Homo sapiens: one gene and its partners. The protein of the gene in region 2 purifies or fractionates together with the protein of the main gene of each other region. This does not show direct contact. Each region holds a gene or a part of one and is shown on either strand. Other genes may lie near its edges. The genes, in order: ANKRD33B, NCALD, TPP2, MAP3K21 and SH3GL2.

What was found.
Region 1: the proteins of NCALD (region 2) and ANKRD33B purify together in Homo sapiens (affinity purification with mass spectrometry; one large-scale study listed by BioGRID and IntAct). This does not show direct contact.
Region 3: the proteins of NCALD (region 2) and TPP2 purify together in Homo sapiens (co-immunoprecipitation; 2 studies listed by BioGRID and IntAct, with this or other methods). This does not show direct contact.
Region 4: the proteins of NCALD (region 2) and MAP3K21 purify together in Homo sapiens (affinity purification with mass spectrometry; one large-scale study listed by BioGRID and IntAct). This does not show direct contact.
Region 5: the proteins of NCALD (region 2) and SH3GL2 purify together in Homo sapiens (affinity purification with mass spectrometry; one large-scale study listed by BioGRID and IntAct). This does not show direct contact.

Annotation. Positions count from the first base shown.
Region 1 is NC_000005.10:10,639,676-10,645,709, reverse strand, and holds part of ANKRD33B (ankyrin repeat domain-containing protein 33B), read right to left. Parts: intron 1-6,034.
Region 2 is NC_000008.11:101,783,231-101,789,264, reverse strand, and holds part of NCALD (neurocalcin-delta), read left to right. Parts: intron 1-235; exon of another isoform or gene 236-486; intron 487-3,212; exon of another isoform or gene 3,213-3,410; intron 3,411-6,034. UniProt on the Homo sapiens protein: May be involved in the calcium-dependent regulation of rhodopsin phosphorylation. Binds three calcium ions.
Region 3 is NC_000013.11:102,644,523-102,650,556, reverse strand, and holds part of TPP2 (tripeptidyl-peptidase 2), read right to left. Parts: intron 6,001-6,034; coding exon 5,884-6,000; intron 5,649-5,883; coding exon 5,548-5,648; intron 4,264-5,547; coding exon 4,167-4,263; intron 3,351-4,166; coding exon 3,213-3,350; intron 1,651-3,212; coding exon 1,406-1,650; intron 1,150-1,405; coding exon 1,071-1,149; intron 1-1,070. UniProt on the Homo sapiens protein: Cytosolic tripeptidyl-peptidase that releases N-terminal tripeptides from polypeptides and is a component of the proteolytic cascade acting downstream of the 26S proteasome in the ubiquitin-proteasome pathway.
Region 4 is NC_000001.11:233,329,668-233,335,701, reverse strand, and holds part of MAP3K21 (mitogen-activated protein kinase kinase kinase 21), read right to left. Parts: intron 1-6,034. UniProt on the Homo sapiens protein: Negative regulator of TLR4 signaling. Does not activate JNK1/MAPK8 pathway, p38/MAPK14, nor ERK2/MAPK1 pathways.
Region 5 is NC_000009.12:17,580,296-17,586,329, reverse strand, and holds part of SH3GL2 (endophilin-A1), read right to left. Parts: intron 1-6,034. UniProt on the Homo sapiens protein: Implicated in synaptic vesicle endocytosis. May recruit other proteins to membranes with high curvature. Required for BDNF-dependent dendrite outgrowth.

The DNA of each region.
Region 1 (6,034 bases), on a different chromosome or scaffold from region 2:
CCTGTCTGAAACACATATTGGGTGATTCTCGTGGAATCAAGGGGTGACAGATCAACAGGCTAAGGGGAGCCAAATGGACAGGAGGAAACCACTGTTGTCCTCATGGAATCCAGGGCCAGCTCTGGAGGGTGACTGCCAACCTCAGACTTCCAGGGAGCTGAGAAATGCGGCCTGTTTTCTTTAAGCCACTGTCTAGTCAGGATTTCTGTTACTTGCAGCCAAAAACATTCCAAACAGGTGCTAATGGGAAAAAAAAATCTATACTTTCCATCACTCATTCTCAAGAAGGCTTTCTCTGGGAGCCATGGCCAGGCCCAGGACTAGCAGGAGGTGGGTGGAGCGTGAAGCCCTGAATGTGTCACTTCCTTTCCTGCTTCTCCACCAGCCCCCACCCACCCCCATGTTATCCACTCTACAAACCCTAGCTCAGGTCTCCCTCTTGCCAGGGGGCCTTTCCTGGCCACAGGAGACCACTGTGGACCAGCCCTCACTGCCTCCCCTTGTGCCACCTCCAGCCTGTATCTTGGGCATTGTGGGTATAATCGGGATGACAAATCTGGATGCAGGGTCCAAGAAAGAGCTTGTGCTCCAGCCCAGCAGGGAGGACAAGCCACCCCCACCACATAGCAGGTGGGAAGTGTGCTCAAAGTTCTCATCTCCCCTCAAAGAGGCACTGGAGTTGGGAAATAAACTTCCCAGCATCTCTGCGATATCTTTTCCTCATAGTGGAGGGTCCAGGGGGTCTGAGTCCCAGCTGCCCACAAGAGGAACCTGCTCATTGGTGGACATTTCTTAGCTTCCATTCTTCCCAATCTCACTTGCTGCCCCCTCACTCCACTTCCTGGGGCCACCATCCCTCAAAACTACTTGCCCCCAAGTCCTTGTCTCGAGGTTTGCTTTGCAGGTGACACAGAATGCTTGACTTTTCATCCTTTCTCTGGCTAATGACTTCAAACAATTCTACATGGCAAATTCACACTTCATAGGAAATTTAAGTTTTCCTTATAAACAGAAAGAAACCTCTATATGGTTGGAAATCATCTGACTTTCCAGAAAGAGATATCAGGGCTTCCCTGAGACAAGAGCAACCCTCTGACCCACAGCGGGAGCATCTCTGATCTCTGTTCCTCGCCGTCCTTTAAATCCACTTTGCGCCTTGGAATCACAGGAAGATTTGAGGTTATTGCTGCTTGTTTTTGCTTCCTGAAGGCTGCGGCAGTTACACCACACTTCAGGTCTGAAAGTGAGCTCCCTTAAGCAAGCCTGGAACCTGGCAACCTCCACAGATTCTGCCTCTCTTCAGAAAAAAATCACATCCTCGATACGCTTCTCAGAGCCACCTATTTAAATAGACCTGTCACTGTGGGCATTAATATTTCAGTGAATTAACAAGGTTCTGCAACTCCCTTGTGATGCTCTTCAGCAGAGCCTGCATTACTCCTTACGAAGCCAAACCAAAGATGCAATCGATCAGCCTCTCAGAACCCGGTTATACTTTTTATTACAATCTGAAGTGTCAATCTAAAAGAAAGGCTCTGGCTATTAGTTTCTTTAAATGGTTTATTTTTTTCTTAATATCACGTATTTAAATGGAAAGAATAAGACTTAAAATATTTGTGTGAATTTTAGAAATATATCAACATCTGTCCTTATTGCTCTCCACTAATCCTGGGGAAGCAATTCAACACTTTTTTTTTTTTTTTTAATTCTTACCCATCTACTGTCAAAGGAAAATAAAACCCACTTTTCTTGGGAGAACTGTAAGCTTAGTAGTAATAGTAGAAGATGAAAATATTCCGTAAGTTCTACACTACAACCAAAGCTTAAGAGGGCAGCTCAAAAGTTCCCTAAACAAGATGTCACTTCTCTTTTTTTTTTTTTTTTTTTTTTGAGACAGAGTCTCACTCTGTTGCCTAGGCTGGAATACAGTGGCATGATATCGGCTCACTGCAACCTCCGCCTCCTAGGTTCAAGCGATTCTCTTGCCTCAGCCTCCCGAGTGGCTGGGATTACAGGCTTGTGCTACCATGCCCGGCTAAATTTTTTTTGTATTTTCAGTAGAGGCGGGATTTCACCATGTTGGCCAGGCTGGTCTCGAACTCCTGTCCTCAGGTGATCCACCCGCCTCAGCCTCCCACAGTGCTGAGATTACAGACGTGGGCCACCATGCCCGGCCAAGATGTCACACTTTTATTTGAGGGAGGAATACAGAACAAGCGAGGAAGAGTACACAGAGGGGAAAATGTCTCTTCTCACTTTGTATATCCTTTCCCATTTAAATTATTTATATCAGTGGTTCTCGATGGGAAGCAATTTTTCCCCCAACCTGGGAGACTTTGAGCAACATCTAGAGACATTTTTGGTTGTCACAACTGAAGAGGTGCTACAGTCATCTTGTGGGTAGAGGCCAGGGATGCCACTAAAAATCCTACAATTTGAAAGACAGCCCCCACAACAAAGAATTATCTGGCTCTGCATGTTAGTAGTGCTGAAATTAAGAAACCCCTGGCCAGGTGCGGTGGCTCACACCTGTAATCCCAGCACTTTGGGAGGACGAGGCATGCAGATCACAAGGTCAGGAGTTTGAGACCAGCCTGGCCAATATGGAGAAACCCTGTCTCTCCTAAAAATACAAACATTAGCTGGATGTGGTGGTGCATGCCTGTAGTCCTAGCTACTCAGGAGGCTGAAGCAAGAGAATTGCTTGAACCCAGGAGGCAGAGATTGCAGTGAACCGAGATCGCGCCACTGCACTCCACTCTGGGCGACAGAGTGAGACTCCGTCTCAAAACAAAACAAAACAAAGCAAAACAAACAAACAAAAACAGAACAAAAAAGCAAAAAACAAAAACCCTGAGGTAGGGGCTTACTACCCTCATTAAGAAAGTTTAAGTATCTCATTTACAAGATATTTCTCAAAGGGAAAAACAAACCGTATTTTTTCATTCACTTAACAGATAACTATTGAACACATAAACTCACCAATAATCATAATAATAACAATAATCACAACCAACATGTCCGAAGGCTTCTCCAAGCCCAGCATGCACCCGAGGGCTGTTCTGTTGTGAACGTGCCCAATCCGCATCCCACCTTCCTGCGGTGGGTGCTATCATTAGCCTCATTTTATAGAAGAGGAAACTGGGGCCCAGAGAGGTGAGTGACAGGCTGCAGGTGTAGAGATGGGAAGTGGAGAAGATGAATTTGAAACTGGGTCCTGGTTCCTGGACTGTTTCTGTTCAGCTCCTGCTCTGTACCTCGTATAGGACAGGGAGAGACTCACTAGAGGATCCCACAGACAATAATCCGTGGATTGTTCTAGACTGTGATGGGGGATGGGCTTGCAAAGTGGAGAATAGGGGAGGGAGAGTCTCAAATCTAATGTCAAATTTGTATCCAAATAACTGATGGGGGAAGAGCAATGTCAGCAGTAAACCCACTGCCCGCAGACTCATCGTTCCAAGAGATGTGCAAGGTGTTTCTGGAATCCTCTAAATGCTGTCACACATGCCTGAAACCCCCAGGAGACCCAGGGAAGAAAGCACGGCAGTCAAACGGAGCGATTAGAGGGCAACTGACCTAAAAAAGGTTTGCAGTTCAAATTAATTCAATGGGAAAGTGCAGTGATGTGACTGACATCATAAATGTTCAGTTGAAAAAGTCAATTACCAAACATCTACGCCCAATTATAACTAGATCCAGAAATAGTAAAAGTGTCTGAAGCTCCCGCCAAACACAAAAGCATCACATAATTACCATTTAATTAGTAGGAACCATTTCTCATTGATGAGGGCAGGCAGGGCCGAAACTCTGTTGAAACTGATATCTCGTTTTTTTAAAATAAAACTATCATCTCTGAATCAAAAGTACAATCGATAGGACTCGTTTTTAATTATGTTTTTTTTTTTATTTCCAAGAAAGTTTTCATCTTTGAAGCCTCTATTCTCATTCACTGAACTTATTTTTATTATAGCATCTCCTAAGACTAAAGAATCCCCTAAGGTTAAAGCAAAAAGAAAGATAAATCTGAAGCAATTGTGAATCCTGTAACTCCAGATTGATCTCGAGAAAAACAACAGACGGGCTCAGACTGGGCGGTGCTGCACACTGGTTGGAATCAAGACTGTCCCGTCATGGGCAACAGGTTATGACAGAAACTTCACAGACCCAAGAAGATGAGGGGCAGGGCGCGGTGGCTCACACCTATAATCCCAGAACTTTGGGAGGCTAAGGCGGGCAGATCACGGGATGTCAGGAGTTCAAGACCAACCTGGCCAACATGGTGAAACACCGTCTCTACTAAAAATACAAAAATTAGCTGTGCGTGGTGGCAGGTGCCTGTAATCCCAGCTACTCGGGAGGCTGAGGCAGGAGAATCGCTTGAACCCGGGAGGTGGAGGTTGCAGTGAGCCGAGATTGCACCACCGCACTCCAGCCTGGGCGACAGAGTGAGACTGTCTCAAAAAAAAAAAAAAAAAAAAAAAGAAGAAGAAGAAGAAGACTGGGGACAACTAAGAAGAAGACAACTAAATGTGGGAGCCCAGCAGGGGTCCTGGAACAGAAAAGTGACATTAATGGAAGCACTGATGCCTGGGAAAACTCTGATGCCACCCTCAGGATAACCAAGACAGGGGTGGTGCTGTGGTCTGAATGTTGACGACCCTCCAAAATTCCTATGCTGGAACTTCAGACCCACTGGAATAGTATTAAGAGGTGAGGCCTTTAGGGGGTGATTAGATCATGAGGGCTGTGCCCTCCTGAATCAAACTAGTGCCTTATGAAAGAGGGTTTGAGGGTACCTCGGTGTCCCCTCTGCCATGAGAGGAGACAGTAAGAAGGAAGGGGCATCAGCAGACATCGAACCTGCCGGCACCTTGATCTTGGACTTCTCAGCCTCCCCAAGTGTGAGCAATAAATTTCTACAGTTACAAATTACACAGGTGAGGTATTTTGTTATAGCAGCAGAACAACTAAGACAGAGAGGAAATCCACTTCTTCAGGAACTTGCAGCGCCAAGCAGGACTGGCTGAACCCAGTGCCAAGAACAAAAATAAAGAGAAATTAAAATAACAGAATTAAGTAATGGTGAAAGCAGCATCGCACATTCACTGAGATGTCAGCTGCTAACTGAATCTAACACGACATGTGCTTGACACATATTTTCTCATTTAATTCTCAAAATAACCCGATGAGGTTGCACGAAGGATGATCATTGATTCTATTTCAGAGTGAAGAAAAGAGTTAAAGCTATTAGTTGTGTGGCATTTAGCTTAGTAGCTCATTGAAGCTGGATAGCCTCTAGGAGTGTATAAAGTATTGTTGCATTTTAGCCTCAGGGAGGTGAGGGAGAAAGAGGTCATTACTCCCATTTCACAGATGGGAACAGGAAAGTGCGTTCTCCAAGATGGCGCAAAAGACAAAGAGGGGTTGATCCAGGTTGATAGCCTGAGAATTTTCCACTCTATGACACAGCATAGAAAACGGAAATTGCCACACACATCACCATGCAATACCACGTTGCCTCCTAACATTACCACGCAACTCCACATCACCCGCTAACATCACCACACAACTCCACGTCACCCGCTAACATCACCGCGCAACTCCACGTCACCCGCTAACATTACCACGCAACTCCACGTCACCGCCTAACATCACCGTGCAACTCCACGTCACCCGCTAACATCGCCGCGCAACTCCACGTCACCCGCTAACATCGCCGCGCAACTCCGCGTCACCCGCTAACATCACCGCGCAACTCCACGTCACCGCCTAACATCGCCGCGCAACCCCACGTCACCCGCTAACATCGCCGCACAACTCCACGTCACCGCCTAACATCGCCGCGCAACGCCGCGTCACCCGCTAACATCGCCGCGCAACTCCGCGTCACCCGCTAACATCGCCGCGCAACTCCGCGTCACCGCCTAACATCGCCGCGCAACCCCACGTCACCCGCTAACATCGCCGCGCAACTCCGCGTCACCCGCTAACATCGCCGCGCAACTCCGCGTCACCGCCTAACATCGCCGCG
Region 2 (6,034 bases):
CTAGAAAAATGATAATTTATATGTAACATTTCAGTTGAGCACAGATAAGACCAGTAGCACCGTCATTTAACAGCACTATCTTTGATGAGGTACACTTTGACATTTACTTCTTTTACTCAAAATGTGGAATTATCATTATAGTTTTTCCAGGTAGCAGAGATTTTCTTGGTGCTGTCTCTATGACATTTTAAATTAAAGTCTTATAATAATTGTATTCAATGCTCTTTCAAAATAGACTATATTTCAGCGGTATGAAATACAAGAGAATAATTCAGCGTTGATGGCAAAATCTCAATGATGAAGTTTATCACTAAAAGAAAACAACCTATGCTGTGAAAGCAGAGATGCTCTAGAATCTACAGGTCTTTTCCTATGGGAAAATAAGAGAAAAAAAGACTGTCATCAGAATCATTTTACAGCATTGAGACTATGTTGATTTCAAGGTCATGTTTGTTGCAGCTTCAAAAGATGCTGGCAAGGAACGAGGTACTCTAGAAACCTGGCTGTTGCATTATTAAATATTTTGTGTATAGTTTCGGACATTCTTAACCCGTTTGGTGCTGTGGACCTCTTTGGCAGCCTGGTGAAGCCTATGTACTTTTCTCAGAATTATGTTTTTACATGCATAAAATAAAGTATGCAGGTTTACAAATCAAACCACTTTCATTCATTGAAAAACGTTAACTAAATTTTACAAAATTGTGATACATGCTTTGTTAGTAACACATTATTACATAATACAAACTAACAGCAGTTATAATAACTACCATAACTACCATAATTTTGAAGTAATGGTGAGCATAAAAGATATTTCAGGATATCTACAACAACTGTAAAATGAGGTGAAAATATCTGTGATTTCTCTTGGCAACAATATCACAGGTGCTGTGGCTTGTGGCCTACATTTTAATTGAAGGAAATACTAAATTTCAGTTTGAGGTTAGTGAAACTAAAGATATAATATTTTTCCCAACCAAGTTCCCCAGGCCCTCTTGAATTTTATCCACCCCTGAGTCAATTGATATGTACGTTAGTGATGCCAAAAGGTGATAGAACTGCACTGGACAAAACCCATCACCCCATTTCCACATTCGGTTCCACCGCATCGGATTTTATTCTTCGAGTGTGTGAATTTTGCAATGTTCTCTAAATTCTGCATGAAAAGGAATAATATGTTCACATAGCTACCAAATTGTAACTTTCTTTTATTTTCCTCCTTGAGATCCATTAACAACAGTCTTATGTCCCCTGGATTGGGAAACCCTTACCTGGTTAGACAGGGGTTAAGAGGAAAACTCATAGTGTTAGTACAAGTTATGCGAGTTAAAACCATGGGCCACAGAAGGTAGTTCATGTGCTCATAGCATTTGAAGCAAGCATTAAAGAATGCATGTGGCTTTCCAGCTTAATGTAAAGCACATACACGTGTGAATTGATCAATTGTCATGTTAATTCCAGATACTCAAGAGAGAGCCCTAAAGGTTTATCTGACAGAGGTCTCTAGGATGAGGCATGTTTGAAATTAAGCTGGAAGTGGAGACACTTCCCAAGTATCTGAATGCAGAACCTTATTTGGCTTATTGGATATTTAAGACCAATACAGGGGGTATTAATAGTATTGTTTAGTGTGACTTATGTAAGTAGTTGTCTCATTCAACATGTTTCTTTAAATGTGCAGAAAATAGTGCCTGATATTCCTCTCCAAACCAACAGCGTAACTTTGCAGTTGGTCAGCTGCCGTCACAGCCCTATATTCAGAATGTCCAAAGTCATCCTTTCTATGACATCAACACCCACTGTCTCCGCGTAAGAGAATGGGAGCTATGACATTTTGCACAAGCTGTTGTTTAAATTCAATCCAAATCCCTCGCATTTGAAATGGAAGCTTAGCAATTTGTCTTCGTGTGTTCTCAAAGGAATTACGAAAGAGATGTTCTCAAACGTTTCTTATTCTTTGGATTAGAAAAGAACACTTGCCTTGGGAGCTTTGAGTCTCTAGCAACTTGATAAAGAAACTTGGAAAAAGTTTAAAATCTCTGACTCCAGGCTGTACTGTTTGCTTCTCAAGCCAGGTGTTTGAAACTTTTCAAAAAGGAATGTGCCATTATTTTTCATAAAATCCACATTTATTTAACTGGTGCTTCATGATGGAAATCTAACTAGAAATAGCATTCCAAAATGTAGTATTTTTTATTGTTTTCAGAAGTGATACCATAAAAGTTAATGTTCACTAAGATTTTGATATAAAAATTATATGATAAATATTGAAATTCACTGGAGCCAAACTAAAAACAGTCTGCCCTTTTTATCTCAGTAGTGAACTTTAGGGGGTTTTTTGCATGTATTTTCATAAGTGCCTTTAAATAAAGACACGGCATCCCTTTAAAATTTAGTTTACATTAATGTAAACCAGAATATTCTCAGGTCACAATGCAGTTTTATATTTGATTTGTAGGAAATAAATCTCTAGCCTGAAAGACATTCCAGCTGTTGCCTGTCTTCATGGGAGGATTGTTCACATTTTCTGAATCTCTCCCAGTGACTGCAGGAAGACCAAAGGCTGCACATTGCTTTTATGCAAGGATGAATTTTTTTAAAAGATGATTTTGGATTTTGTTTGCTTTAATGAATTTAAGCCCTATCTATTAGAGGTAAATGTCAAGAAAACTGTTGTGTTCTTTGGCTATCTGCTCTGCTGACTCCCACAGACTTTGATATGATTCATATAACTCAAACCATGATCAGGTTTGTGACGACCATATTTACAATATCGTTGGAGATCAAAAATAGCATCTCACAAAAGTTTCCCCGTCCTATACCTTCCCACATCTTATCATGGATCATGTGCAGCACAGTCACTCAATTGGCGAACATTTATTAACGGACTACTGCATTCACAGTATTATAGTAGGCATGTGAGGTCCTCCCCTGATGGGATCCTCAAGTGAGATATGCTGCTGGCATAGAGAACCCAAGGGCCTTTATGGACCCTGGCTTTTGTTTGCTTGAGCTTTTATTCAAACATTCAGTCTTTCATGCATTCAGCAAATTTTGAGCACATACTACGTGTCAGGCATTGAGCCAGACCCCAGGGTTGCTATAAGGTACAAGACAGGGCAGGTCCCTTCCATCATGGAATATGCAGTCTAACTATGTAGAGAACTTGCCCAGAGACCTATATGTACTATTAACTGGGGTTCTCTTTCCCACAGCCACACTGGCCACTGCAGTCCAAAAGAGAATTCTAAAAGGAAACAGTACAAAACAGAACATCAAAACAAAACAGACAAACAACCTGGGAACCATTAGGTTTTACACCAGAGTGAAACCCCAGAAGAGACATTCTGCAGCTGGTGAACAGCCGGCCTCATTTGTGAGCAATCTGTTCCCATCAGTGTCAGGGATTCCAGGTCGGTATGCTCAGTCCTATTCCCAGTTGGCCAGAGGCTATTTGTCCTCTAGTTCAGAAGACAAATGAGACTGGTAGGGACCGACCTAGAGAGTATTTTCTTTTATGCAAATACCCTGTTTCATACAAATAATGAAAACCATTGTATTTTATGAAAGGAGTCTTTAAATTAGTGATATTTCCAAAAATATCTCTCCCGTCTTCCCTGTACTAACCCAGTCAGGACAGGGTCACTGCTGTAATAAATAGCCCCCAATCTTAATGGCATAATCCAACACTGTTCATTTTTCACTCACCCAGAAATCAGGATTGGGCGAAGGGCTCTGCTCCACACAGTCCTCCAGGGACTCAGGCTCCTTCTATCTAGTTAAACTGATCAGGGGCCTGTTTCTACCACTTGCTAGTGATACTCTGAGCAAGTTACCTAAATCAGAGTTTTCTTATGTGAATAATATTAGGGCATCCCTCTTGGATTTTTGAGTCAATTTACTTGGCATAGAAACTGACAGGTATTAGGTACTCAATAATGTGAACTGCTGTTATTAATCTTCTACTTCTGGTAGTGCTGCCACCACCATCCCCCGAGGAGGCAGGAAGAATCCGTCAGAATTGGAAGAGTATTATAATAATAGCTAACACTTAGGAAGCTGGATAGTCTTCAAAGTTCTTTTCAAAGTAACTATTTTTTAACAACATTCTAGTTTTATAAATGAGGAAATTGAGGCACAGAGAGCTTAAACAAATTGCTGAGTGTCACACAAGTATACAATAGAGCTCTAGGCATTTGGCTTCAGAGTCCTGGCTCTTTATTCACTATACTATATTGCCTTTCAACTTGGAATATACAGCAGAGCCTCAAATACCGTCATTTCATTCAACATCGTTTTGTTGTAATGTTAATGAGAAAAAATAATTGGTTTTGTTGTCAATGATGTTGTGAGGACTTACTATTATATATTGTATTTTCCCCAGAATTAATGTTATATGTTGTGGCAGATTGTATTCAAAAATAGCCTTACAATTGAATCCATTACCACATTAAAAAAATTTTTTTTTAGAGATGGGTTCTCACTCTGTTGCCCAGGCTGAAGTGCAGTGGTGTAATCATAGCTCACTGTAACCTCAAACCTGGGCTCAAGCAATCATCCCACCTCAGCTGCTTGAGTAGCCAGGACTATAGGCGTATGCCACCATGCCCAGCTAAATTTTTGTTTTTATTTTTATAGACTTGGGGTCTCACTATGTTGCCCAGGCTGGTCTTGAACTCCTGTCCTCAAGAGATCCTCCCACCTTGGCTTCCCAAAGGGCTGAGATTACAGGCATGAGCCACTGCATTACCATATGTTCTTCTAGAATCTTGCTCCTCTCCATCAGGAGGTGAAGTCTATTGCCCCTCCCTTTGAACCTAAATGGGCTTATGATTGGTCCAACTGATAGAGTACAGTGGAAATAATGCTAGGTGACTTCCAAGGATAGATCATAAAAAGAATACAATTTTTTTCTCTCTTGCTATTCTTTTTCTTCTTGACATTTTCCCTTAGAATCCAGTCACCATATTGTAGGAAACCCAGACCACATAGAGAGGCCAAGAGTAGGTATTTCAGCCAACATCTCTTGCTAAAGTCTCAGCCGACATCCAGCATCAACTGGCAGGCATGTGAGTGAGCAAGCTGTCAGATGACTCCAGGCCCGGTCATCAGGTCTTCCTTCCCCCTCCTGATGCCAGGGAATCACAGATGCACTATCCCTGCTGAGCTCTGCCCCAGGTTGCAGTTTCATGGACAAAATAAAAGTTGTTACTGTTTTAAGCCCGTAAGATTTGGGGTGTGGGGGGGTAATTTCTTAGGCAATCAGAGTAACTGGGACATTTGGGTAATTAGAAATGAGTGAAATGCCTGTGTAGAGGGCTAAACTTCAGGTACATATGGATTATTAAATAGACTTTTGTGATTTGGCCTAACCTAACCTAATTTCTGGAGGAAAATATATTTCTGTTACCAACCAAATTACAAATGAGCTTTTGGAAATTTGGAACAATGTCCTACAGGTTAATGCTGTTGCTGGTTCTAGGAAAAGATTTGGGCTACACTGAGGCCAGACTGCATGCCTTAGCAAGATCTCGCTCATTGGCCCCCACTGACTGGGACCCTCCCTGCAGGAGAGTGCAGTGTGGATGGCAGTACTCGTATCATCTGTCCTAGACCATCATAGGACATGCTCAGTCCTCCTTGTCCACTTTGTCTCCCTCTCCCATACCTACTCTGTCTAAATTGCTGCCTACTTTTCTATTGTTAGAAACTGCTGTATCTTTGACACTATTTTGGCCCATTTCCTATGCTTCTAGGGCAATGTTTTCTGCTCTACTGGTTTGTAGTAAAGCTAGGGTATTCTCCTTAGCCAGGTAAAATTTAGCTAATTCAACAAAATCTTATGCCTCTTAACAAAATTGCCAAAATGGCAGCTGTCCCATTGGTCTGTGGCTCCATGTGTTGGTCAAATCTAGCATTTGAAATCCTCAGAAATGTGGTCCTTGTGTCCTTACTCAAAGAGGCATCCCTTTCCCTTCTGCTGTAGAGAAATCAATGCCCCAACTCTCTTCTCACTTACTTAAACTTCACCCCATCC
Region 3 (6,034 bases), on a different chromosome or scaffold from region 2:
TAAATCAGTGCATGTATTAATTACAAACCATTAACTATTGATTTACTTCAAATTATACTAAAGTACGTATGTATAAACAGTATAAACTGAAATGAGACCCAAGAAATGTCAGGGTAGGCAACTTTCTAAGCACAAGTTTCCCCAATTATGCTTCAATGACAGTAAATAAATGGCTTTTGGTTCAATAGTGGCAAAAAATAAATATAATTCTTAAGATGTATGAGAACTACTCATTTTGATAACAGCATTTATGTAGCAGGCTTACTTAGCTCTGTAAGAAGTAATAGTACAGAGAAATGCAAAACTGTTAAGAATGACAACTTTTACTGGCATTGAGCTAAAATGATTATTATGACAAAAGGTGATAGATCTATATAAACATCATTCTCATAATAAATTTGTAATGAAAACATAGAAGGAAAAAACAAAAACAGGTAGGTACTTATAAAACTGTAACATATATGTCTAAAGTACAACAACCAGAAACATATTTCTAAAAAAAGCATCATTTTGAAATTAAAAGGCAATACCAAAAGAAACATCTCATATTTTCCTACTTAACCATGTGAAATTCCAATGAGATAGGTCTGTAGAAGTGTGAAGAAACATGTTTTAGGGTAATTGTTCTGACTACTTTTTAAAAGCACCCCAAGATAATCTGATTTATTCCTATGTCCATAATCTTATATGGACAACCAATCTTATTGGTTAAATTTCTATAACATGTTCTAATCTTAAATATCACATGTATTTAAGCCAAGTTTGATTTGTATTTACATGTTTCACAGGAAGTTCAAGTGTATTAGCCGTAGGAGGTAAGACAGGTTCAGGGCCTGAGTACTGTAGGCTTGTGAAAAAGAAGCCTAAATATTTCAAAAGTAGCATACATTTTAAAAGACAACTAAATATTAACTGACTTTCACTAGTAACCTGGGAAAAAAGGATTAAATTTTTTTCCCCAAGAGTATATCTTCTCTTTTATCCATTCTGAAATGTGGAATTAATTCTTATCTTTAAAGAAATGAAATTTTTTAATAGGTAATTTCAGTGTTTAAAAAACTAATACTTACAGCTTTCTTTCCTAGTTCAGTCTTTGACAATGTTAAGGATCCTGCAAGATAGCATCCAGGTCCTGCCCCTTTAGGTATTCTAAACAAGAGAATTCAAAGAGAAAAAAAGCAACAAAAGAGAAAGTTTCACAAAGACAAGTAAGGGGAAAAACATGAAAACAATTCCACACTGAATTCATTCCCATAGCTAAGACTTCAAAAATCAAAGGAAGAAATACTTCAGCCAAAAAAAAAATGACTACATCCTCTAAATTTAGCCTAGATGTCATAAACTGACATTAAAAGGACTACAGTGTATACGATGGGCAGTAAGTATAAGCAATGTTATCACTTACTTATCATCAGGTAAGGAAGTAACAAAGAATGGCTGGTTATATTTGGGTGGTAATGTCAAATTGCTTGATTTCTTCTTCCCTAGAAGTGCAAAACTATGATTTTCATGAATATCTAAGCTCAAGGTATTAGACAATCTATGAGAAACAATAAATGGAAGGTCTTTAAGGCGTTCCAAATCACTGATTTGCTCATGGCGAATCTGTAGTCGAATTGTATAATCTCCTTTCTCCAGTTTCAAAGAATACTGAAAAAGAAAAACAACATTTGGGAAAAGTTAAGTTTAACCAAGTCAACGGAAATCACTGAAAGAGGATAAAGTGAAAGTTACCATTCACAGACTTGTTCATAATATGTGAGGTACAGTGCAAGGAACTAACTATCCAGACGTTCATATAACACATAAAGTCCCTAGTACGCTGGTGAGCAGACAGGATCAGGGACATCAAGTGACTTGCCTAACATCACACAGAGTAAAGTATAAGAGAGCTGAAGTCAGGTCTGACTTCAAAGCCCTCATTCTTTCCAGAACGACAGAATACTCCCACACTTTTAGCAAAACTCAGTGTCTGCTTGAGAATGACAAAAGCAGTGATTTTCTAGTTCATGGGTCCCTCAGAGACATATAAGAAACACTACCAAAAAAATGAGCAAAATTGAGGCACCATAGAATATCTAGGACAAATACACACACACACACACACACACACACACACACACACACGTGTAACTTATGACTACTGGTAATCCTTATTTCCTTTTAGAGAGGGGGACTCACTATGTTGCCCAGGCTGAAGTGCAGTGGCTGTTAACTGGTGCAATCATAGTGCACCATAGCCTAGAGCTCCAGGGCTCAAGCGATCCTCCCACCTCAGCTTCCTGAGTAGACGGGATCACAGGCATGTGCCACCATGCCCAGCTGATCTTCAAATTACAACCAAAATGTCACTCCTTTATTACAGACAGGAAAAAAACAGGAAACCAATAGAGATCAAGGGATACAAATCTATTATCCACTTAACAGGTTCAAGAGGAAGAGATGCTGTATCCTGTGTCAGCCACTTTTTCTGAGATTTAAAAAGTAACCAAAATAATAGCACTGCAGTAGGCCAGTCTGTAATGAGATGTGACTGCTACTTGCTTTGAGGAAAATCGATACCATTCCTTTAACAACTAATTGAAAAAAATCTCCATAAATTATTTTCATTTGTCAACATAAAATTATACATATTACAGGAAATATCTCATTTCTTTGCAGTAATATCTAAGGGATAAAATGTCTATAAATTATGTGATTTTTCCCTTCAATAAAACAGCACAAAGCATAGTGCCTGGTATGTAGTAAGTGCTCATTACAGAGTTGTCCAACGAGGTAGTAAATTTAAAAGTACAAATGAACTGAAGACATGCGGCCACTGCTGCAGTGCTCTCTTTAGCCCCCTCAGACTTAGGATCATTTCAAGAGGCTCGCATCTCTTTGATGCATGCTTTGATGATTCTACCTTCAGATAGGTAGAATCAGTGTATAGGAAGGAGAAACACCACACACCAAAAGTTATGCTGGCCAGTGTGGGCAAGGTTCACCCTTGTCCTCCTCTAATTCAGCACAACTACATGGTGAAATAGTTGACACCATCTGTTCTTCACCGACTACAACAAACAGGCTCTCACAGTTTGCAAAAGTACTAAACACAAAGCTATAATTTTTGTTTTTTTTAAAGTATGAACATTACCATAACAAGAAACCAGGATTTTGTTAGTTCAGGAAACAGCTTCCGTTAATTCTAAAAATCACCATCAATTTTATACCTGATGTGGATAGGCATCGCCTGAACCCATCTGTCTTTTGTTCTGGTCAAAAATAATCCACAGTTGGCTGTCAAATTCAGATTCATATAATAGTTCACAAAGTAGTGGGCAGCTTGGAGTTACTTCCCCACTCTTGGGCTATTAAAAAACAAAAAAGATTACTTGGCATGATTTGCATATAATTTCTGATACAAATTTTTAATATTGTTATTGACATGAGACTTTTTCATTTAAAAAACATTAAAAATACTTGTGGTAAAAAATTTTGAAAATATAGAACACACAGTATTTTAGCACTTATAAAAGTCACTGCTCTCTTACAAACTTTTAAAAATACACACCTGGCTATGTGTATTCATTAATAAAGCAACATATACATACTTCAGGACCTCTAATTACTTTATAAAACTGAAATGTGAAAATTCACTGAAACCAATCCATTTCCCTAACATTATAACCAAACTGATGTGTGTTTCAGTAACAGTTTTATTGAAATCTCATTGATCTTACAACAATTCTTTGGTCCAGCATTTACACTGGCCTCCATTACTTTTGCCACCCATCCCACCTGGGAGCTACTCTGACCTTTCCCTGTTCCAGTGCCTTCTTCGCAGAAAGCAATCAGGCCCAGCACCATCACCAGAAGGCAGATGGTATTTCTGAGCCATCTAATCACCCCTGGGTCAGATGGCACCAATGGACAGTGATCAGTGATTTTATAAACTAAGGCTTAAGGCTAGGTCACCACTCAATTACATTTTGTGACTTTACAACTGAATGGTATTTAATTACAAATTATAATTTCCTAAAGAGTAATTCCAAATTAACTGTTAATCACTTGATTCTGTTTTTTATATATACCATATACACTGTCCTTCCATTTTTGATTCTATGAATCATAAATAAAACACAAAAGTTCATCCTAAGGGTACACTTTACTAGGCAAACACTTACTTGATGAAAGTTATATGTCAGGACCATCTCATAAAGTTGACGGTTATTTGGCAAAACATCTCTTGATCCTAAAGGTTTTGTTTTTGCACTCACTGGGCTGTAATGAGGAAACTACATAACTGGTTTGATTCAAGAGTTCATTGAATGAGACAAATAAAACCATATGCAACAAAATCTGTAACATATTGCAAAAAGTGCAGATGAACCTTCCTGAGAGCTATCCTTTTCAGTATACTCTACAATATTTTAATCACTAACTTACATAATTATTTGATTGAATCATATCAATACATACAGTTTAGATTTTGCAATAAATATGACAAAGGCAATCTTTTCATGGCAAAAACATTTTCAAATGTGAACAAACAGCTCTCAATACAACCAAATCCTAACACTAGGGTGACAACTAAAAGTGTTGCAAGACAGGTTCTGATTTGTACCCCTTGTGCAAACTGTTGACAGTACTGTGTTGTGTGCAGCACAGACCTCCCCAGACCCCTGCTGCTCACCAGATGGCAGGGGCCACACTCAGCCCTCCTCCTGGCCGAGGGAATGTTATTTCATATTTTTAGTAGTCCTCTGAAGGAAGTTGCTAATGTACAGATTTTATAAAGGAGAAAACTGACACTGAAGAGTAAGTTTTAAATATAGTTTAAAATGTCAGTGAAACATAATCTACTCTAAATTTAGCTCCAATTTTTTAGATTTAGGAAGAAAACATCAGGATGATATAAGTTGGATATATCTTCAAAAGCTGGATGTTTTAATTTTTATTGATAATTCTAGGAAGCAGTATATCTTTAGACATCACCGTGTCACTGACTATTGTCCCTAATTGGTTATTTTAATACACTTAAGACTAGGCTTCATGCCGATGAGTTAAGGTCAGATTAAACAAAAGAAACCAGGTATCTTTATAACACAGTGAGTATGTGAACACAGGTCAAGGTGCCCTGCTTTTGTAAGGGGAGCTGCTGAGGCACAAACAGCAGGCTACAGTACTTAAGTTTCTACCATTTAATAAACAGTTTCTAATGGTATTGCAGTTTCTAAAAATGACTGCATTAGGATTCACAAAATAATATCAGAGAGAATGTTAACTTGCTATTTTACAGCAAGAAATAAAAAGGTTAATGTCCACTGATCCTAACTAGTCATGACTGGGATCGGCTATCCACCATCCTTGACTTTGCTGGTCAGGTGGGACAGTGAAGCTAGAAGCTGATACTGGGGCTGCCTTGCAGAGATCTGCTGGCAAGGATAAAATTCTCACCTCTAGCATGCAGGTGGATTAAAAAAAAAAAAGGCCCTTTTTTAAGAGTGTAAGAGATCCCCCCAATCTATATTCAATATCTGTAGTTCCTAAAACATTGAATGATACCGCAGTGTTTGGACCCAGTTCTTCAAAGTTATGCAGGGAGCCAGATCTTCGTATTTCAAGGAGGACTGAACATCAAAGCGGTTGATTCCTTCCGATGCATGCTACAAAGGATTTCTCAAATTACTTTCTCAAACTTTACTAAAAATAAGCAATATTTTGTACCTAAAATAAATGTGTCCAATATAAAGTTTATAAGTACCCACACACAAAGCCTACTGCTATCTTCAGAACCACAGGTAATTTCCCCTCATTAAAGTTTAAATCTAACCAATGAAGTTACTCTCCAGTAACACAAGTAACTGACATTAAAAATCATGAAAATGTTGTGGAACTTACAATGTTTAACTGAGGAGCAGTACACACTATCCCATGGAAAGAAATGGTATAATCAATGTTGACATCACTGAGACTTGCCCACCAACGAGCAATGCAAAATTCAATTGCTTTTCCACCCTGCAAATAAAAGTAAATAAAATATATCTCTTTT
Region 4 (6,034 bases), on a different chromosome or scaffold from region 2:
GGAGTCCTGAAAGCAAATATTTGAGAACTGTTAATCCAGGCAATATACGGAGACAATAAAACACAAGTTCCAGGATCAGAGGTCCCAGATTTAATTCTTAGCACTCCCCTCTGATGGGTTGAATGACTTTGATCAAGTCAGTTAATCATTGAGTTCAGTTTTTTTTTTACCTGTAAATTGGGGATAATTAGAGCGCCACCTCAAAAGGTTGTAGTGACAAATAAATGAGGATAAATTGTGAGTAGTGCTCGGCATCTAATATGCCCTAAATAAATGTTAAAAACTCATCTTGTTACTATTAGGTTGGTGTACAAGTAATCGTGGTTTTGCAATTATTAATACTATTATTTAGTTAAAAGCACTCAACGTGAAGCAATATTTGGAGAAGATGAATTTTAAAAACTAAATTCACACTGCCAAGGGGTCAACTGTACAAATTTAAGTTTCAGGCTCCAAAATAAAGCCATCACAGCTCTCCCAGGTCCCCCACAAAACCCTCTGCCCATTAAAATTCCTTCATTGGGGTGCTTCTATTTTTCGGGAGCCCTGGATTGCCTCAGAGGGTTTGGGGAGCCTCAGAGAGTTTGGGGACAGTCATTAACATTTGGAGTTAAGATCATCAGCCTGACACGGTAAAGCTAGAGAATATTTTCCAATTTTGGAAGTAGTTAGAAATGTAACAAACCTGCACATTGTGCACATGTACCCTAGAACTTAAAGTATAATAAAAAAAAAAAAGAAAGAAAGAAATCAGAGAGAAAATGTAGTCTAAATTAATTCAGTAAACAAATTGTGATGCTAAAAACTAGGCTTGAATTGTAAATGATAAACAATGTGGTCAAACCAATGTCTAAGTAAGTTATTTTAGTTTTTATTATTGCCATTCTGACAATCTATGATAGTACAGTCATAAAGCAATGACCGCAAGCTTATGTTTCTCTCTCTGTAGATGTGTTTTCTTGCAGCAGATCATACTACACTACTCCTCAATAACCATCAATGGCTCTCCCTTGCCTCTTAAATAGTCCACACATCTTAGTATGGCATCCATGGCACTCACTGCCTGACCACATGCGAAATGCCTGTTTCCTTCCCCCCCAAAAAAACCCTTTCTCCACTTTTCATTCTAGTTACACCTAACTACTCATTGTTCCCTGAAAAAGCCATATGTTTTTATGCCAGTATTTACCTAATTGGCTTTAATGGGTTAAGAAACATTAAACAGATTTTCCCTACAGGACTTCTGACAGATCTCCCAAGAAACGAATACAGTATCAGAAATCAAGACAATCAGTCTCAATGAAGTTATATAACTTGCTCAAGGTCACACAGCTAGTAAATGAGGACACTGATATTCAAATCCAGATCTGACTGACTTTAAAGGCAATGCTAGATAGAGCCAGAGGTGGTGTCTCTTACATGTAATCCCAGCACTTTGGGAGGCTGAGGAGGAAAGATGATGGCTTGACTCCAGGAGTTTGAGACCAGCCTGGGCTACACAGCAAGACCTTGTATTAAAAAAAAAAAAAAAAAAAAAGTCCAGGCACGGTGGCTCACACCTGTAATCCCAGTACTTTGGGCGGCCGAGGCGGACGGATCACGAGGTCAGGAGATCAAGACCATCCTGGCTAACACGGTGAAACCCCATCTCTACTAAAAATACAAAAAAAAATTAGCTGGGCGTGGTGGCGGGCGCCTGTAGTCCCAGCTACTCGGGAGGCTGAGGCAGGAGAATGGCGTGAACCCGGGAGACGGAGCTTGCAGTGAGCCAAGATCGTGCCACTGCACTCCAGCCTGGGGACAGAGCGAGACTCCGTCTCAAAAAAACAAAAACACACACAAAAAAGCCAATGCTGTTTCCCTTAGCTGCACTATTCTGGTAGGTTTAGCACTTAAATGCTAGTGTGAAAAAGCAGGGCTTACAAATGACCTTCTTAAATGGGTAGAGCAGATAAATACTTTCCTCTGTCTCCTTTACCCTGCTTTGATATACTTGATAATGATTACAAAACTGATCAAATACGGATACTTTGCATAATTCAGAACTAACTAGCTATACCCCTCACAACTACAAAAAAATAAGACATTGCCTATTTTTTTTTTTAATTTTAATATTTGTAGTCCAGGGTCTCACCATGTTCCCCAAGCTGGTCTCAAACTCCTGGGCTCAAGCGATCCTCCCACCTTGGCCTCCCAAAGTGCCAGGATGATAGATAGGTATGAGCCACTACACCTGGCCAGCTACTTACTTTTTAATACGCAAACATGAAAATGATGGGGGAAGATGTGGTGACTCTTTTGTGATTGCCATTCTTCTAAAAGTCTAATCTTTCACTAACTTTGTTTCAAAAGCAGATGTAGATCTCAGTTACCATTGGGACATCTGGACTGACTTCTCTGTGCCTCCTGGAATAGGAAGCAGCTATAGCATGAAGCTACATGTCCTGAGTATAAGAACAGAAGAGAGAAGGAACTTATGTCTTACAACTGATAATAGTGAAATTAGTAGCTTCCCCAAATCACTCTGATGAGCTATTTAAACATCTTATCTGGAGATTACATTTTCCATAATTTTCTCAGATAGTTCTTTTATTTACACAGTACTAATGAAAAAAAGCTAAAACAAAATTTATATTCCTTTTGCAGTTTGTCATAGTAAGAGCTCCAAATGGCATTTCATAATAAATACAACTATTGTAGTTGTAAATAATACTGTAGATAGATAATAATTATTCCTAAAAGACTAAAAAAATTGAGATAATAAATGCTTAATCACTGACATAAAAAGTATAAAAGTAAGTAGCTACCATAATTTGTGGCTCAGTTCCCCATGGAAAGTTTATTTCCTCTTAAGAAAAAAAAAATAGAACACAATAAGCAACATCAAAAAAGAAAAAGGAAACCATACATGATGCCACATAATCTTACTTCAATCTTGCACTTCTGCAATTTGATAAATAAAACTCTTAAACAAAATTCTAATATTTCAAACCATCCTTGGGAATTCTTATATTGCAGTATTTTATCTTCACTGCCCCCTGGTAACCTCCCTGCAAAATACTTCCATTGCTACCACTCTGGGCAGAGTCGGTGCCTCCTCTCATATAGACAACCTTGAAAGCCATCACTTGAGCCCACTGCAGTCCGTTCTTCACAGAAGCCAGCACCATCACTCCAAGTGAAACCTCCATGTGCACAGCAGAGGGAGGCCTGCCAGGCCTGCCCCACGCATGCCTCTCCTCACCAGCCTTCTCCTTAGGCCTCCAATATGGAAGGCTCATTTTTGCTTCCTCTTTCCTTTGCCTGGGTCTTTGCTTGACGAATTCGTGGTCCTTCCTCGGAGTGCCTTCCCTGGAGAGCCCCTGTGTGAAACAGCACCCCCATCCTCCACTCTACCACTCTCCACCCCTTACCATGCTTAATTTTCTTGATGGCATTTTCTAATCTATTTGTTATTACGTGACTGCCATCTATCTTCCCCGTTAGACTAAGCTCTATGATGGCAGATTTGTTGTCATTGATGTCTGGCTTGCCAGTGTCCCTGAGGCCCAGAAGTGACTGGCACAGGGTGGGCATTCCAACAGTGTTGAATGAGTTCCAGCTCTCCACAATGTTTCTCTCTTCTGTAAATGCGCATAACACTGGCGATTTTCACAGTAACTCAAAGTTGCCTTGTATTGTTCTCTGGGGGGTGCCTATAGGTAGACTTATATAAAGTATTTTCTACTTATTTTGCATCCAGAAGGGAGTTACAGGGCCTAGTATTTATTTAAAACATAAATGTTGCTTAAAGCTTGCTAACTTGGCACAACTTTCAACCTGTTGCTACCTGTTAGAAAAGGGACAAAGTTGTTTATATCATTCACAACATATCAGCTATTATCTAGACACAGACATTCCCTCACAAGATATGATAAAACTTGAGAAGATCTACTAGAAAAGATAAAAGAAAATCTGTCAAGAGTAACATATTCTCTAGACAAATTTAAATATTTGTTTAAAACAGTAATTTCCACTGAATTGGCTCCAAGTAGTCTTCTATTAGCTCTTTGGTACATGAGTACACTTCGGAGTGAAAATAAAATTCAATATTGATTTTTAAAACCTTGTTTACGTTATCACTAACTCACTACCACCATTAGCAAATATCCAATAAAATCAAACAAAACATACTGCAATAGAGTATCTGTTATACTTAAAAGTCTAAACAAGAAGTCATAGCTTCATATATCAGCAGAGAATTTCAAATCTGCATTTATTCATTGAACAAATAAAATCAGACATTCAGGATAAAGACCATGTATGAGGCACCATGGTTTGCACATTCTAGACCCCAGTCAAACTCTTCACTTTATAGTAATTAAATAACTATGATAATGGTCATATTGTAACAAATACTTGGCCAGGCTAGTGACTAGCTAATTAAGTCTTTTATAAGAGTGCAACAATTTAAAGCAAAGGGAATCCTGCCTGACAATTATAGAAATTAAAATACTCCGGGAAGTTTGGCAATTTATTCTGAGACTGAAAAGTCTTTCAAAAACTAAGTAGCAGCATGTAATCACCATCAAATTATGTAATATCTACTGAATACACAGTAGTCTATACTCCACTATACAAGTTTTTCTGGTGTCAGTAAAAACTGTTCGGCCATAGTTATTATTCCAGGGTCATGTTATTTCTTTTTACCATTTAATAATATTAGGAGTTCTTTAAACATTTATATTTTATAAAAGTTTATAAAACTTTATAAAACTTTATAAAAATTTACTATTTGCAATAATTGCTATGGATTGTTGATTGATCCATAAATCCTATGGATTAACCCATAGGAATGGATAAACATCCTTTAAAACATGCTTTAAAAACACTAGCAAACATTCTCTACCCTGTGTTGTATGAACTTTGAAAAGTATTGCAACCAAACAAAACTAAGTGCAGTGTAAAAGTAATAGCTATAGGCCCTTTAACTTTTTAGCCTAAGGACCAGTACAACCCAAGTGTTTGCTTGTGTTGATGATTTGGATACATTTGCAGAATGTTGGGTTCTGTGTTGTCACAGAGTTGCTGCAACTGCCAAGAGGCAGGGGAAAGAATGAATGGTGCTGTTGATGTCCTTAAAATACCTGGTTCTGCAGAAAACTCCTAACAGACGCAGGCTTTCAGGACACCATTGGAAATAGGGCTTATGGAACACATGGACAAGTCACCCATTCTATGGCAGCACCTGGTCAGACGTTTCTTTTATTGAAAAAAATATATATATATTATCGAAAGAAAAGTATATTTTAGGAAATTGCGCTCTGTTTTTACTGTAACACAGTTCAAAAGCAAGCAATGCTATAGTCCTTCATGTGGTCTGTCAAAGTACTAAGAATACACCGCTACCAGTAACAACATATTTTGTTAGACTTTGCTCTCATCACCTAAGCAGATGCAATCTAAATTATAGAGAGACTTGGGGGGAAGGAGGATCATGAAATAAAACCTAATGCTTATGCTTAGCTACAACATTCCAATTATTTACAATTCCCAGTGAAAATGCTACATTAGTAATTTTCAAGTAAATTTCTTCTTGTCACTCTTCTTTAGGGACAATGTTTTCACTTGAGCTAGCTCCTGTCCTAGCAGGTTTCACAGGATTGAAAGACCTCCAGCTGTTGTAGGCCAATGCCAGGGCTGGCTGCATCCTTTAACCTTCCCTGGGATTTCATCTCATTATAAGAATATGAAGCGATCTTCAATATTAAAGAACCAACATCAAACAGCAATTCTATAGGCTCTTTTATACAGCAAAGTTTCATAGGATTTGCATTTAAGTCATTTGTCAGTTCTTTATTGACATCTGGAAAATCCACCCTGATTTATAAACAAAGTCAATGACACTGGCCAGGTCTTCAAGGTTTCAAGTACCTGTGCAAGGACAATGCACTTGTTATTAACCCAAAAGTGCATTACGGTGCACACCAGTGCCTCTTGTCTGGAGAAAAGAAGCCATTGAACCAATAATAAAATCATATTTCACGTAGAGACA
Region 5 (6,034 bases), on a different chromosome or scaffold from region 2:
TAAGTATCCAAGTAAACCTCCATGGAGCTGTGGGTTCTTCACGAGTATTACAGACAGCTTCTCCATATTCATTACTACTATATACAATTTGACCCAGGGGATGGCGGAGGGAGATTAGGGTAGAGCAACTACAACATCATATTTGGCATTTAGAAGTTGTACTAAATGTAAAACCTTTATAAATAGTGAAATTATTTCCTGAAGCATTTGTCATCAGCTAATGATTTAGTATAGCATGAAAATATTTTGTTGGTAGAATGCAAAAGACTTGGCAGGGTCTCACAATCATGGCATTTTAATAAGTATAGTTATAGCTCTCTTTAGTCTTTATTATCCATCGGATACCATGTACATCATTCTTAAGCTTTTAGGCTCCTTAAGTGATTATGGAAACAATAAATTCTAAACCAAAAACACTGAGAAGGGTTGTACTACAAAGTTTCAAAACTTCACATGTTGTCTCCTGCTGCCTCTTGCTGCCTCAACATTCATTCCCACATACGCTAACTGTGAACACCCCACCCAGGTAACCAGGTGCACAAGTTTGATAAGGTTGGCCCCTACCACAAGTTCACCTCTCTGTCTTCTTCTGACCACGACCTACCAATGCACCAATGCAACGCACTGTGAACTGCACTGAGCTGTGAACTGCACTGAGATCACTAGTAAAGGCACTTGCCCACAGTCCTTGCTCTCTCTGCTCCCACCTGTTTCCCACCTGCTTAGCTGATCCTGCTCTCAGAGCTGTCACCTCCACCCCACGTGTCCCCCCTCCTATCCTCCTGTACAGTGATTGTCATTCTAAGACATGTGAGTATAATAAACTCTGTTTTCTTGAGCCTCTCCTATGTCCCCTCTTGTGGCTACACCTCACTGAACATTACCTAAAAGAACACAGGACAAGGGTACGAAGGATTAAAAGAACAAAAAGAGAAAAAAGGAGGCCAAAAAATCCACTGACTTCTTACCTACTTAGCATCTCCCCTATCTGGCCTTAAATTGAGAAGAATTGCTCATCTCTAGAAAGCCCCATCAGGTATCCACCTTAAAGTTTGAAGCAGTTCTTAAACTCCATCTCCTCACCTAATTCTCATTATTCATTTGTCAGTGTGTCCTGCCCTTCTCTCGCCGCTGCCTCAAGCTACTCCTCTGAAGAAAGCCCTCGGGTTGCTTGATGCCCTGAGACTCTGTATGCAGCACAAGAGGCTTGGCAGAATGGAATCTGCTCTGCAAGCTTCAGCTCCCTTCCCCTGAATATTAAACCTCTCCCTTCCACAATGACATCTGTCTCAAAACAGTCACCATTTGCCCCAACCAAGTCTTGCCATTTTCTAGGGTACTTCTAATTAATTTGCAGGTTACTTTAAAATTTTCTAAGTAGACTGAAACCAAAATTCATATAAACTCAATTTAAAATATTAAAGAATCACTATGGGGAAAAAAGCTTGCAAAAATATAGCTGTTTCAACAACACAAACTTCAATCACGAGGACTCTCAGTCTACAGAGAAATCATTTTCAGTCACCACTTTCTTTTCATATACCCCACAGGCCCGTATCGTTGACTTCAAGCGCATTAACAACATTTTGTTTTACATGGTTCAAGTGATCCTTATTATGCAAGCATGGCACTCTCACAAGCATTACCTCATTCAATCCTGACACCTCTGGAAAGGTTTTTTACATTTGATTGCTGCTAAATTAATGCAGAGAAGGCTGCATTTTGATCAGGCATCCTAAAGCCCAGTAACAGAACTGTTGGAGTGATTATTGTAAGAAACATCCACTTTCTCCTGATGACATGATGAATTTATTTATTTATTTATTTGAAACAGAATCTCACTCTGTTGCCCAGGCTGGAGTGCAGTGGCACCATCTTGACTCACTGCAACCTCGGCCTCCTGGGTTCAGGCAATTCTCCTGCCTCAGCCTCCTGGGTAGGTGGGATTACAGGCACCTGCCACCTCGCCCAGCTAATCTTTTTGTATTTTTAGTAGAGACGAGGTTTCACTGCACTGGCAAAGCCGGTTTTGAACTCCTGACCTCAAGTGATCCGCCCGCCTTGGCCTCCCAAAGTGTTGGGATTACAGGAGTGAGCCACCACGCCCCACCCTATTTTTACTTTTCGAGGGGAGGAAGGGGCAGCAATTAGGAATTTATTTAAGAATCTGGTAACAGGCTAAGGGCATTCTCCCTCAGAAAAATGCATGTATAAAATGTTACTTATAATTTTATAAAATATATAGGCCCCTTGCAGCCTATTAGAGACTACTGGCTAAGAATGTGAAAGGGTACAGGTGTAGAAATCCTGGGTCAAGCAACAAGCCACAGCCAAGATTTTAAAGGCAGCAGAGAGTTGACTGCTTAGAGGCAATTAAGAAACTGAAAATCTCACTGAGATAAAGTCATAACTAATTAGATATTTAATCCAATACTTAGTAAGTTTAACATCTCACCAAATCAACAAATGCATGAAAAGACTTATGTAATGGTCTCCTGAGCAAAGCATCCATATAAAATACAGCATTCTGAAAGAGGAAATTAGGTAAAACAAAAAGACACAGAACACAAACATGATGAAATTTTCCCAGTTAAGGAATCTGAGTGTGACAAATAAACATATACCAGACTGTATCATAAAACCCAGCCTACCCAAATTAATTTTATCATTTAAAAAAATCAGAAAACACAATTTATAATAGGTATATTTCTGACTTAGTCTGTTCAGGCTACTAACAAAATATCTTAGACGGGGTAATTTATAAATAATAGAATTTATTTCTCACAGTTTGGGAGGCTAGCAGTCCAAGATGAAGGCACTAACAGATTTGTGCCTGGCTAGGGCCCACCCTTTGCTTCAAAGATGGTGCCTTGTTGCTAAACCCTCACACGGTGGAAGGGGACAGGGTGACCCCTTCAACTTCTTTTAAGAGAGCACTAATCCCATTCATGACTTAATCATGAGTGCCCTCATGACTTAGTCACCTCCTAAAGGCCCCATTTCTTAATACTGTCACATTGGCAGTCAAGCTTCAACATACGTATTTTAGAGGGACACATTCAGAACTTAGCAATATACTAACCAACTCATTAAAAAAGGAGAAAGTATATCTTTTTGATGCAATAGAAAGTTATATGTTATTTATAGGCTGAACTGTCCTCTTAGATGTTGAATCAAATATAGAATACTGTGGTTAATCCTTTTATGCAAATAACGACTGTTATGGATTGAACTGTGCCCCTCCCAAAATTCATATTAAAGTCCTAATTACAATAGCTCAGAATGCAACTTTATTTGGAAATAGGGGCATTACAGATGGTAATTATTTAAGATAAAATCATACTGGAGTAGGATGGGCTTGCCCAATCCTATATGACTGGGGTCCTTACAAAATGGGGAAATTTGGACACTGAGACACACACAGGGAGAATGTCATGTGAGCATGAAGGCAGAGACCAAGGTGATGTATCTACAAGCCAAGGAAGCCCAAAGATTCCCAACAAAGCACAAGAGCTAAGAAGGCAGCCTCGAATAGATCCTGTCTCATACCTTCAGAGAGCTCGTGGCCCTACTGGCACCTTGGTCTCAGACTTCAAGTGTGCTTGTCTCAAGAAGTGGGAAACAATGTATTTCTGTCGTTGAAACGACTCAGTTTGTAGTACTTTGTTACAGCAGCTCCAGCAAACTCATAAAATGACCTAATATATTTTACTTTATAATAGACTTTTACATATTGTAAAGCAAAATGTGTCCACATCATATGCATGATAGAGTGAATTTTTAAAAATACAGATTTTGTAGGAGCTTCATGTTCACTGGAAACAGCTATTTTTAACTAAGCTGCTGCCAGTTTAAAACAAGTGTAAAAAAACTGACATGACTTTTGTAAAATGAAATCTCAATATGAATAAAACTCACTAAAAGAGCAACACAAGATCATCTGCCCTTTATTACAGTAAAAAAAGAATACTTTATTCTAATTATACAGTAAATTATATCTTTATGAGCAATTAAGTAATGAAGTACATGAAAATAAGATGATCAATCAATTTTTGGTATCATTATATATTTTCATGCTGAAAGGATTTTCTTCTCTAATAAATTTTACTTGGCAAAAGCATTTTTTTACCTCCAAATTGTAAACATATTGAAAATAACTGTCAGCAACAAGGTAGAAATAACCAATTCTAATATAAGACAACAGTTGTGACACATTTAATCAGAAATTCCAAGTACAAACAATATACTGTTTTATTTATCATCGCTTACTAACACAAGCAAAAAAGCTCAATTCCATAGAAAGAAACGTTTGCGTGAACAGACTCCTTCCACTTATAAACCCAGGCTATAGGCCAGGTGCGGGGGCTCAGCCTGTAATCGAGGCGGGCAGATCACCTGAGGTCAGGAGTTCGAGACCAGCCTGGTTAACATGGCTAAACCCTGTCTCTACTAAAAATACAAAAATTAGCTGAGCGTGGTAGTGCATGCCTATAATCCCAGCTACTCAGGAGGCTGAGGCAGGAGAATCGCCTGAACACAGGAGGCAGAGGTTGCAGTATGCTGAGATCACGCCATTGCACTCCTGCCTGGGCGACAAGAGTCAAACTTTGTCTCAAATGAATAAATAAATAAACAAACAAACAAACCCAGGCTATATTATCCAGCACATCAGTTCTCAAAAGGAAGTAATTCTAGGTCTAAAGCTTCTCTGTAGATAACATCAGGTTCACGGACCTGATGGAAAAAAATGGCTACAAAAGTAGGACAGGACTATTTCTCTAATTTTTTTGTCACATGCAAACATTAACATGGGCTTTACATACTCTCCTAAATATACATATGCACAGAACAGTCACCTGTGCCTTAGACTTTCTAAGAGTGTGCTACACTAAATTATGGATAAGAGACTACGTGCTGCTTCACCTTTCAAATAAAAGGCTTTTCAGTAAAAGGAAGACAATGACGCAGTGATTCTGCATTTGGATTCGGTGTGATAAACATTAACCGTATCGCATCACATGCCGACCTTCTCCAACCTTTTAAGTTCTTTCCTAACGCAGTTTAAATTATTTTTTCTACACTTTAGGGCGACACAGAACTTCAAGATTTAGCGGAAATGGAGCGCTCTATTTTTTAAGTTGGAAAAACTAAAAGGTCTAGCTTGGGTAACTTCTTCACAGCATAAGGGATAGTATTTTATACTAATAAAAATATCCTTTATGTCAATAACTATAATTTATTGAACACTTTATACGTGTGTTCTACACACTCGTTTCTCTTCACCTCAACCCTGAAGAGACAACGGAAATTATCATCACTTCAGCATGGACAGGTTCAGAAGTTAAATACTCTCTCAAGGTCAGAAGCAGCAGAGGCAGGATTCAAACCTTAGCCTTTCCCACTCCAAAGCCAAGACTCTTAATTGCCTTTGAGGGCACTAAGCTTTGCAAAAGAAATCTTTAGAATCCAAGTGGAAAAAAGATGTGTTGGTAAACGCAGTGCTGAGATATGCTATAGAGAAGTGACCAGTAGAGCAATCAAAAAGGTTAGTAATATCGAAGAAGTCCTGCCACAGAATTCCTGGGCAGCACATATGCTTGGTTCTGTAAACCTGAAAGAACTTGCAGTATAAAGTTATTAGAAGCCTTCCAAACTACATCAACAAACAAATCACTTACTTTCATAAACATGTCTGGCAGAGAGGTCACAGATAACTCCAATTATAATAGAAAAGCAAAAATAATTACATTAAGAAACATTTTTACAGAAATAGTCTTACTTTTCTTGATTTCCTAAGTTGACAGGTATAATTGATTCTATAAAGGCAAGAATGTGTGATGAAGATGATGCAGATGCGTGCAAACACACACACGACGGGAATTACATGCTGCATCTGTCACCCTAAGTTAACCAAGGTTCTGTAAAACACAACCCTCACCTTTTCTGGATGTGGTTCATAACAAGGCTGCCACTGTGGTAGCCTAGGAAAAACCTCACTACTTCCGAGAAATTATGAGAAAGCTCGTTAATTAAG